Linked DNA regions of Homo sapiens. Each later gene encodes a partner of the first gene's protein in a complex. Each region holds a gene or a part of one and is shown in the gene's direction. Other genes may lie near its edges.

What was found.
Region 2: PPP2R1A (region 1) and STRN4 share a complex: the UniProt entries of both Homo sapiens proteins name them as parts of the core of STRIPAK complex.
Region 3: PPP2R1A (region 1) and STK24 share a complex: the UniProt entries of both Homo sapiens proteins name them as parts of the core of STRIPAK complex.

The regions. Positions count from the first base shown.
Region 1 is NC_000019.10:52,206,971-52,210,618, forward strand, and holds part of PPP2R1A (serine/threonine-protein phosphatase 2A 65 kDa regulatory subunit A alpha isoform), read left to right. Parts: intron 1-3,648. UniProt on the Homo sapiens protein: The PR65 subunit of protein phosphatase 2A serves as a scaffolding molecule to coordinate the assembly of the catalytic subunit and a variable regulatory B subunit.
Region 2 is NC_000019.10:46,722,375-46,726,022, reverse strand, and holds part of STRN4 (striatin-4), read left to right. Parts: intron 1-374; coding exon 375-550; intron 551-643; coding exon 644-691; intron 692-1,094; coding exon 1,095-1,216; intron 1,217-2,738; coding exon 2,739-2,909; intron 2,910-3,072; coding exon 3,073-3,213; intron 3,214-3,648. UniProt on the Homo sapiens protein: Calmodulin-binding scaffolding protein which is the center of the striatin-interacting phosphatase and kinase (STRIPAK) complexes.
Region 3 is NC_000013.11:98,570,564-98,574,211, reverse strand, and holds part of STK24 (serine/threonine-protein kinase 24 isoform b precursor), read left to right. Parts: intron 1-3,648. UniProt on the Homo sapiens protein: Serine/threonine-protein kinase that acts on both serine and threonine residues and promotes apoptosis in response to stress stimuli and caspase activation.

The DNA.
Region 1 (3,648 bases):
GGTGTATAAAGAATGGTGCTTATCATTGTTGGGATCTTGGGATTTGAGTAAATATAACAATTTGTTTCTTCCCAAATAGCATTATGTAAAGAAACTTGATAGTTACCATTAAATTCGGATATCTCAGCCTTCATCTGGGCATATGTGTATAATTTGTGCGTATGGACACACAGAAAATTGTATACAAATAGATCGTTTCATACATTTTACACAAAACAGGGCTTAACATGAGCATGATGAGGTTTGGGGGCCAGCCTAGAAGGGGTTCCTTGAATTTCACAAAATTATCTGTAGCCCCTGCCTGGTATTTGTCAGGTGGAACTTCTGAGCAGTGAATTCATAGCTTTCAGTAGCTTCTCAGAGGACTTAGGAGCAGAAGACATTATTTTTATGAAACCGCAAGGCTTCAACAAGGGCCCCCAGGGTCTGCAACTGAGGTTGGGACTCAGGCTTGCTGTGGAGCTGGGCTGGGACCCAGGGATCCTTCTCCTACCTGGCCAGGGTCTCCCAACAGAACATTCTCAGTGAGGAAAGTCCCAGTCAAGCCACGCTTCCTTTTGGGAAGCAGTTCCCTGTGACCGATGTGCCTGACGTTCATGTCAGCCAGCAGACACATCCTGGGGCTGTCTGGGCCAGGCAGTGCTGGAAACCAGAGAAGAGTTAGATCAGAATAGCTTGTGCTTGCTCGTTGCCTGCAGTGCACATCCCAAGAGCCTTACACAGTTGTATACTGATGTTAGCTGTATTGCCCAGATGAGGAAACTGAGGCACAGGCAGATTTAAGTGAATTGTCCGAGCTGGGAAGAGGCAGAGTCCAGATTCGATCCCAGGCCCCTAATTCTTAGCCACTCCTATGTGCTATCCTCAGAGGGCTCCTGGTTGCTTTCAGAGCTGTAAACAAGGGAGGCAGGGGGGTCCTTAAACCCAGGGAAGGCGCCTAACCTGCTTAGGTGGGATGGGAAGTTGTCAGGGAAGGCTTCCTGGAGGAGGTGGCTGTTAACCTGGATTTTGACAGGTTATAAGAAATAGAAAATGGCTTTGTGTAGTTTCTTCATTCCACAAACATTGAGCAAGGTCTCTAGGCTATGGAAACCCAGAGATGTGTCAGACCCACTCCCGGCCCTTGCTCTCAGCAGTGGTGAAATGGAATTAATTACAGAGACTCCTGTAGCTGCAGTGTAAGGATTGTTTTTTTGTTTGTTTTGTTTTTTTCCCGAGATGGAGTTTCACTCTTGCTGCACAGGCTGGAGTGCAGTGGCGGGATCTCGGCTCACTGCAACCTCTGCCTCCCAGGTTCAGGTGATTCTCCTGCCTCAGCCTCACGAGTAGCTGAGATTACAGGCGTGTGCCACCGCACCCAGCTAATTTTTGCATTTTTAGTAGAGACGGGGTTTCACTTTGTTGGTCAGATTAGTCTCGGAATCCTGACCTCAGGTGATCCACCCACCCCGGCCTCCCAAAGTGCTAGGATTACAGGTGTGAGCCACCGTGCCTGGGTGTGAGGGTTGTTTCTGTGTCAGCAGCTCTTTTTATTTTTATTTTTCTTTGAGACAGAGTCTCGCTCTGTCACCCAGGCTGGAGTGCAGTGTTGTAATCTCAGCTCACTGCAGCCTCTGCCTCCCGGGTTCAAGTGATTCTCAAGCCTCAGCCTCCCAAGTAGCTGGGATTACAGGCACCCATCACCATGCCTGGCTAATTTTTGTATTTTTTGTAGAGACAGGGTTTCACCATGTTGGCCAGGCTGGTCTAGAACTCCTGGCCTCAAATGATCACCTGCCTTGGCCTCCCAAAGTTCTGGGATTACAGGCGTGAGCCACCGCATCCGGCCAGCAGTTCCTAACTCTTTTGGAATTATGGATCCCTTTGAGAATCTGTTAAATTCTGGACCCTCTTCTTATAAAAGTACACAGGATTTTAGGCGGTTCACACTCTTCCCTACCCTGTGTGGTCTCCAGGTTTGAGAACCCTTGCCCCCAGACTTCACAGAGAGGCTTCACAGTAGTGAGTCTTCACTGTGCAAAGGCATCAATTGCAGTTTCTTAAATGTGTACCTTCCTGGGCCCTGCCTCCAGATATTCTGATTGTTTTGGTCCATGCTGGGATAGGCCTCCGGGTGATTCTGCTGCAGGGTGGTCAGGGATCATCCTTTGAGAACTACTTCCTGCAGTAACCTACAGGAGAAGAGAACCTTGGCTTACATAATTACTGCTCAGCCTCTGTCCCAGGCCTCCTTATAACAGATTGCCGTAAGTTCCACCGGTAGTCACTTGGCAAGTGTTGATTGAGTACCTTCTCTGTGCCAGCCCAGGTGGTGGGAGAACTGAGGTGAACAAGAGGAACTCTGTCCCTGCAGTATCCCAGTCACACCGCACCTATGGTCACACTCCCATGATACTGTCCTGAACTTGAGACGTCACGATAGCATGAGGACCTGTGACAGTGACATTATGCTGGCTTGCTTAGTATTACATTTTTCCTTTGAATCATTCATTGCAACTATTTTTAAATGCTATTTTTAAACATTTGTTTTTATTCTTAGTTTTACTGTAAAAATATACATAGAATGTGCTATTTTAATTATTTTAAAGTGTGTAGCTCTGTGGCGGTAGGTTTATTCACATTGTGCAGCCATTATCACCCTCCATCTCCAGAATTTTTCACCTCCTCAAACTGAAATTCCAAACCCATTGGACATGAGCTCCCCCTTCCCTCTCCCCCAGCCCCTGGCAGCCACCGTAGGAGTTTGACTGTTCTAGATTCCTCATATAAGTGGAATCAGAAAATATTTGTCTTTATGACTATTAGCTAATTTCCCTTGGCATAACATCTTCAAGGTTCATCCATGTTGTAGCATGTGTTACATGAGACTTCTCACATACAAGATTCTTGAGTTTTTTTGAGGGCTGCATTTGGAAAACCAGATTTGCTTATTGCCAGCTGCATTCTCCCATAGTGACAGTCCTTGGAGCTGGGGAGCACCTGCCCTCCCTGGGCTACATGCCCTCCAGGGTGCCACAGTGCCTGCCTCTTCCTATTCATGCCTCCTGCCACCCCTGCCTGTCACCTTGGCTGATGGCATCATTCTGTTACTTGACTGAGCCCTGGAGGCATTTCCATTTATGATTTTTTTTTTCCTGCTTTAAATACCTGTCAGCCCAAGTTGAATTTCAGATCAGAGACCTCCACACCTTTATTTGAACATATTGGGATAAGTTGAGTCTCCCTTCAGTAGGTCACTAATTAAGAGTTCCTGTCTTGTGCTAAGAGTGCTGCTGGGCTCTGGGGATACAGTGGAGAGCCAGTCGTATGTATCTGAAGGAGCACAGTCATTCTAGGCCCACAGTAACAACCAGCGAGCAGTCCCGAGCCCCATAGTCCCCCAGAAACATGAGATCCCAATTCAGTCACCAGAGCTGTGTGTAACTGTTCATGGGAAGCTTAGGTCAGGTTTTCGATCCTGACCTGTAGCTATTACTAGCTTGGGCAAGCCAGGCTGTACCTCAGTTTTCTCTTCTTTTTTTTTTTTTTTTTTTTCTTTTTGAGACGGAGTCTCGCTGTGTTGCCCAGGCTGGAGTGCAGTGGTGCGATCTCGGCTTACTGCAGCCTCTGCCTCCCGGGTTCAAGGATTCTTCTGCCTCAGCCTCCCGA
Region 2 (3,648 bases), 5.5 Mb from region 1:
GAGGAGGGCAGGCTGCCTGATGTCTCTCTGTGCATCTTTAATTCATTGCCCTGCTCATGGCTGATGATCCTGCACACTTGTGGGATGGTCCAGTTGTGTCCCCCATTCCCCTTCCTCTCAACTGCAAGACCCCAAGGGGTCAGGCTCACCTTTGTCTCTCCAGAACCCAGCGCAGTGTGGGGACTTGTTGGGCGAGCATGGAGACTCTGCCCAGCAGAGGAAGGGGAGAGTTCCCGGCTGGAGCCCAGGCTCTGAGGGCATTCCTGCCAGGGTCATGTGGGTGGAAGACAGGGGCCCTCAAGCCCTGGGTGTCGGTGTCTGCATGACTGCTGGGATGGATGCGAAGACACTGAGGCAGCTCCCCCCAACCCCAGCTGTCTGACAGCAAAGATGCTTTTAAGAAGACGTGGAACCCCAAGTTCACCCTGCGCTCGCACTACGACGGCATTCGTTCCCTGGCCTTCCACCACAGCCAGTCGGCTCTGCTCACCGCCTCCGAGGACGGCACGCTCAAGCTCTGGAACCTGCAGAAGGCGGTCACGGCCAAGAAGTGAGGGCAGCAAGCTCAGAGCCGGGGGCAGGGGCATCTGGGGACGGGGGTGACAGGGTCTCAGTGACATCAGGCTCCTCTGTCATCCCACAGGAATGCGGCGCTAGATGTGGAACCTATACATGCTTTCCGGGCTCACAGGTAGGGAGGTGCCCCTGAGCCTGCTAGAAACTCGTCCTAAATGCAGCCTGACTCCTGACCTGCTCACTGCCATCGCGGGAGGCCCACGGCAGGAGGCAGGACAGCAGGGGGCTCTGAGTCCCCGCCCCCTTCATGATATACACAGCCCTGGTTCTTGGGGCTCCATGCTGACTTTCACATGCCCTGGCAGCTGGTACTCAGCACAGCCCTTCAGGGGAGGAGATGGAGGTGGGGTGGGGGAGGGCAGGGGACAGGCAGCTTGTCCAGGTAGCATGGCCAGAGCCCCAGTCACTGAATTCCTTTTGGCCATCCTTGAAGAATGCTAGTAGGGAACTTAGGTCCTGTGGCCAGGGGAGGCCCTGAGCTTGTCTCATCCCCCTTTCCACATATTTGTCCCTTCCAGGGGCCCAGTGTTGGCTGTGGCTATGGGCAGCAACAGTGAATACTGCTACAGTGGCGGGGCAGATGCCTGCATCCATAGTTGGAAGATTCCAGACCTCAGCATGGATCCCTATGATGGCTACGGTGAGGACAACGCCTCCCGCCTTCCCCTCACATCCACTGGGGCCTGGCCGTCCCCTCCACGCACACACACGTCGCGTCCACCTCTTGCCAACACTGCAGGCCTCAGGAGTGCGTGTGACGGCTCCCCTGTCTGCTCTGTTGTGAGCAGCGCGATGCAGCGCGTGGCCAAGGGACGAGCCAGCCGGGATGGGAATGATGGCTGTGGGAGGAGGTGGTGAAGCTGCCTGAGAATCTCTGTGAGCCGGCGTCCAGAAGGCAGTGCTGAGGCAGCCCAGGCTGGGAGCAGCCCATGCACAGGCGTGGCTGGCCCTGGCAGCCTCTGCTCTGCCATGCCGTGTACTCTGTGTGTGGGGATCCGCCAGGGTCTCTGCGTGGTTGAGGGGAGGGCATGTCCAGAGAAAGCAGAGAAGGTGGAGTTAGCTGGGCCAGGCTGGAGCGCGTTGGGGCTTTCTCTTTGGAGCATCTAAGACCTAAGTAGGGAAGTGACCAGACTGTCACTTCTGTTCAACATCTGTCCCCCTGTTCTCTGCCTTTTTTTTTTTTTTTTTTTTTTTTTTGAGACAAAGAGTCTCACTCTGTCACCCAGGCTGGAATGCAGTGGCGTGATCTTGGCTTACTGCAACCTCTACCTCCTGGGTTCAAGTGATTCTCGTGCCTCAGCCTCCCGAGTAGCTGGGATTACAGGCACGCACCACCATATCCAGCTATTTTTTGTATTTTTGGTAGAGACAGGGTTGCACCACGTTGACCAGGCTGGTCTTGAACTCCGGACCTCAGGTGATCCACCCACCTTGGCCTCCCAAAGTGCTGGGATTGCAGGCATGAGCCACTGCGCCCGGCTCTGCCTCCTTGATCATGCACCTGGCCCTGTGCTCCACCTTGTCTGGGCAGAGTTCAGAGGTCTTTGTCTCCTCTCAAGGGGAGGACAGACTTTAGAGAACAGGCTCACCTGCACAAGGTCAGGATCGGTCCCAGCTACATTAGCCACCACACTTTCGGTGTCAGCAGGCCAGAGCTGCTGGTGTGGACTCCAGCAACCAGGGAAGCAGTGATTGGACCTCTGAATGACCAGGGGGCTTTGGAGAGACCAGGCAAAGCCCATGCACTTGGCCATGGGCTGAAAAGACTGCTCGGGCCAGGGTTGGGACCAACCCTTGTCCAGCACAGGCTGCGTGCCGCTCCTGGGGCCACAGAACCATGCTGTTCCTTCTTCCTTAATGGAGCCCGAAAAATTCTGTATTGAGCTCCCAGTTTCTGGGCCCTGCTTGGGGAGACAGCTGTGAATAGAGGGAAATCCCTGCCTTCTGGAGCCCTAGAACCTTCCTTGGAGAGCTAGTGGGCAGTGTGAGCAGCTGCCGGGCTGTCCTGGCAGTGGACAGTTCCGAGGGGCACCAGGTGTGAAGTGGGTGCGTGGGTGATTGGAGCCCAGCTGCCTGGGGCTTGGCAGAGCTGGGGCTCTGGGCTGTCCAGGGAGGAGCTGGCAGCCCTGACACAGCCCATTTCCTCCCTGCGGTGGGTGCAGACCCAAGCGTGCTGAGCCACGTCCTGGAGGGCCACGGGGACGCCGTGTGGGGCCTGGCCTTCAGTCCCACCTCCCAGCGCCTGGCCTCCTGTTCTGCTGATGGCACCGTCCGCATCTGGGACCCCAGCAGCAGCAGCCCGGCCTGCCTCTGCACCTTCCCCACAGCCAGCGGTGAGTGGGGGCCCCGGTGCCTCACCCTGGAGCTGTGCGGGATCTGGAGGCTATCAGAGTGGTTCCTGCTGAGGCCCCAGGCCTCCCACCCACTGTCCCCCACCCTGGGGCAGGGCTGGGTCTGAGGGTCCATTCAGCAGCCTTCTCTTCCCTGTGCCCTCAGAGCACGGGGTCCCCACCTCAGTGGCCTTCACCAGCACCGAGCCTGCCCACATCGTGGCCTCCTTCCGCTCTGGCGACACCGTCTTGTATGACATGGAGGTTGGCAGTGCCCTCCTCACGCTGGAGTCCCGGGGCAGCAGCGGTAAGGGGGCTGACATCAGCTCATGGAATTGGTCTCAGTGTCTTCTGGGCCCCACTTCCTCCTGGGGCTTTGGCGACCCCTTGTCAGTCAGCTCAGATGACTCCCCTGCACCCTCAGGCCCTGAGCAGGAAGGAAGTTGGGTCCCAGTGGAGGGCCCCCGGCCCTCACAGCCAGGGCACTGGCGGGGCTGAGTGGGGAGAGCGCGTCAGGGCCGCCCCGTCGGGCCCTCTTGGTAGAGTGGCGGAATGTGTTCATGTTTGTTATTCCTCTTCCCCCGCCCCAAAACAGGGCCCAGGGGCTGCTTGTGCAGAACCAGCGCTGCGGTCGGGGACCGGAGTGCCCTCGCCCAGCCCCCCTCGACATCCAGGCAGAGGCTGGTGTAGGGGCTGTCACGCTGCGCTTGTGCCTCTGTTCTGGTCTTCCTGATTTTCTGCT
Region 3 (3,648 bases), on another chromosome or scaffold:
GTGAAACCCTGTTTCTACTAAAAATCCAAAAAATTAGCTGGGCGTGGTGGCACACGCCTGTAATCCCAGCTACTCGGGAGGCTGAGGCAGGAGAATCACTTGAACCCGGGAGGCGGAGGTTGCGTTGAGCTGAGATTGTGCCGTTGCACCCCAGCCTGGGCGACAGAGGCAGACTCCGTCTCAAAAAAAAAAATAAAATAAAAAAATAAAGCAGAGTGAATTCAGGTGGCCTAGGCAAGGATGCTTGAAAAATAACAACCATGTTAGTATAAACACCATTTTTCAATGTTTTGCAAATCATTTTTATGCCTCTTGATTCTTACCGGTACCGTTTGAGATGTAGATGATATTATACCATTTTGTAGATGTGGAGACCAAGGAAGACTTAACTGACCAAGGTGAGATCATATATTATGTGGCAAATTTGTGATTGGAAACTACTACTCCTCCTACTCCCACTCATCATGCAGTGTTACTGTTTTATGGTTACTTTTGCAAACATTAAAGTTTATCTCATTGCTAGTTAGATTGGCTAAAGAAATTAGAAATAGGAGGCTGATTTTTTAATTTATTCAATCAGCAACCCTTATTGAACTTTCATGTGCCAGGTCCTAGGGGAGGGGTTGAAAGTGGTAGATCTGAATGAGGTTACCATTTAAAGTAAATGTTTAATGAAAGTTGCTGAAGCCTTTGCTTTTTTTCTCTTAAACCCCAGTTTTATATTTCAGTAGGGGAAAAAAATAGACATCAGAAACTGAATGAATATAGTGACGAATAAACATAAAGAAATCAGGCTGATCTGTGGCTATAAGTACTCCGTCTTTCATTGAGCATTTGTTGTTTCACTCAATTGAGATTAAAAGAAAAGCTTCAGATGGAGGCAGGAACACCAATCGGCTTTGAGTTTGCAGAAATGTGATTTAAAAATGAGATTTTGGTTTGCACATTTCTGTTACAAAATTTTATCAGTCACTTTTCAACTTTTCTGAACCGTGACCCATGTAAGAAATATATTTTACATCAGGATCAAAAACAAGTTTCAGGAGACCGTACTAATCCTTACTACGGGTTGAGTATCCCTCATCCAAAATGCTTGGGACCACAAGTGTTTCGAATTTTGGAATATTTGCATTATATGCTTGTTGAACATCCGAAATCAGAAGTGCTCCCAATGAGCATTTCCTTTGAGTGTCATGTTGGCGCTGAAAAGTTTCATATTTTGGAGCATTTTGGATCAGGGATGCTCAGCCTGTGCTTGTGATGTGCTGTTGTGGTATATTTAAAAAAGGAGCTGGTTGCAACACTAGATTGATTTCACAGCCCACTGATTCCTGACCCACAGTTTGAAAAATACTGAATTATATACGTCACATGTATTGCATATTGCAGGGCCTGGTTAATTTACCATGTTTTGAAGTTGTAAGTTTAACATAGTTTCATATTTGAAAATACAGATAATTTAGAGGAATAGCTTAAAAACCTGAAGTTTGTCTTGTTAACATCATCCTGTCCCCCTCGTTCCCCTTCTGTTTTTCTTGCTGCTTGGATAAATAGACCTTTGCTGAGAATGCCCCTTGCATCAGGATAGTGAGACTGGTGTCTAATGGCCAGTCTGGGAACATGGGGAGCTTTTCTCAAGTGCTCTGCTCCACCCTAGGGAAGCCTGTGCACTCTGGGAGTCTGGGAAATGAAGGCAAACACAGGACAGCTGCATTTAATTGTGGCTTAAGTGCTCTTGTACTTTTTTTTCTTGTTAGTGTCACATTTCCACGGGTTCTTTTCCGTTCCTTCCTTGGGAGGTGCCTGCCCAGTTACCCTGTTACCATCTGCACCCTGGGGGAAGGTTGGTGTGTCACTGGGTGTGGACAGTCAGGACATCCGAGACGTGGGTTCGGAGAGCACCTTGGGGACTTGCTGAACTGTGGAGTGTGCTCTGGTGACTGACAGCATTGGACTGCACAGGGGAGCCTGCAGAGTATAGTGCCCGGAGTCGTTGGAGGCAGAGTTCAGAGCCTCAGTCCATCCTGTCCTCAAGAGGTCGGCTGCCTGCTTTGGGGCATGTGCTCTAAGAAGGTTGCAGTGACTGAGGACACAGTGAGCAAAGGCACATGGTTGGAAAGCGGTGACACAGCTTCTGGTGGGCTAGATCTAGATCGGTCCTGGAGCTGAAGAGGCAGTGGGGTGCCTGTGGGCCTGGGGGAGGCCTTGCATCTGTAGACAGCCGGAAGTATGGCACATTTTTGAGCAGATGATCTCCTGTTCTTTGGGGCTCCTGCTTTCTCAGGTGTGGGGAGTGCTGGGTGCCCCTTTAGAAGGCATTGCAGCACTTCAGGGAAGAGGAAGCCCAGGGATGCGAGTGGGGAGCCCAGGTGTCAGTAGGACAGCCTAAGTGGATTTTTTTAGCATTCACTCAGCTTCGTGGCTTGAACTCTCAGTGAACATTTTATAGTATCTCATTACTCCTCTTGCTTTATGATCCTTTTTGCTGATCAGTGCTAAAGAGTAATAAGTACTCAGTTACTGTTAGTTACTGTTTTGTTAGTTAGTTGCCTATGTAAGTGTCAAAAAAACAAAAAACCTATTTTGAATACTCCGTGTTCCAAAATGTAACAATGGTAAGAATTTGTTTTGCTTGAAAGTGTTCTTTTTTGAGGGGGAGGATGGTCACAAGGTTTTTTTAAATTAGAAAAACCCAAACTTTTGGAGGAGTCCAGTCTCAGATCTGGGAGTATTCTTGATAGCATGTCACATAAAAGCAAGTGACCTTCAAGTAGGAATTGGTCAGATGAGATTTTCTAGCTTGCTAACTGTGCTGAGCAGTTATGGGCAGGTGGCGGCTGGCATCATTGCTTTCCCACCCTCTTTCTGACTTTGATGCTCTTCTTGGAGCTACGGTCTGATGCGTAGAGCTGAGCTGCCTAATGTGGTGCAGGTTGAGTTTCATTTTCAGTTCAGTATTTTTCCAGGACCCTGGTGCAAGATGCAGGGTGAGCAGTTACTGAAGGGAGGAGCCTGTCGATGGTCACTGCTACTTTCTGCTGTGCTTGTGCGGTTACACACACTCTAAAGCCGCAGTCCAGGCGTCCGATGGTCTCCTGAGAAACGGGCCCCTTAGCTCTTTATTTGGGCGATTACTCCCGATGATTCAGAGCTGCCCTTGTGGAAGCTCCTTACCTGCAGGAAGTGGACCACACCCAAGCCACCTTTCTGTGCCTTTTAATGCCTTAGCTCAGCTGATTATCATTAATGGAATCTTGTGGGTGGTGTGAGTGCAGGAAATAGAAGTTGCACTCTATTATCCATGTCTCATCGCGTAGAATCAGCCACTGTCGTCGGAGTAGTTTGTAGCAGTCATTTCCCATAATTCATGTTTTTGCAGTGGAAATTATAAAAAATATAAGTGCCAAATGCTTTGGGAAAAATAACCTGCCTCCTGAGGGTGACTATGGAGTTTCTTAATCCTAAATGGCTCCCTGGTTTGCAAGGTTTAAATTAGGGGAAATAAACTGAGATATGCCTTTGCTTGGTACAAACTGTGAAACATCCCAAATTGGTGGTTACCAGTCACTTTATGCGCACCCAGGGAACAACATTGTTGACTCTAGAGACCTTCCATTGTGTTTCTTGAGGGTTCTTCGTCAGCAAAAG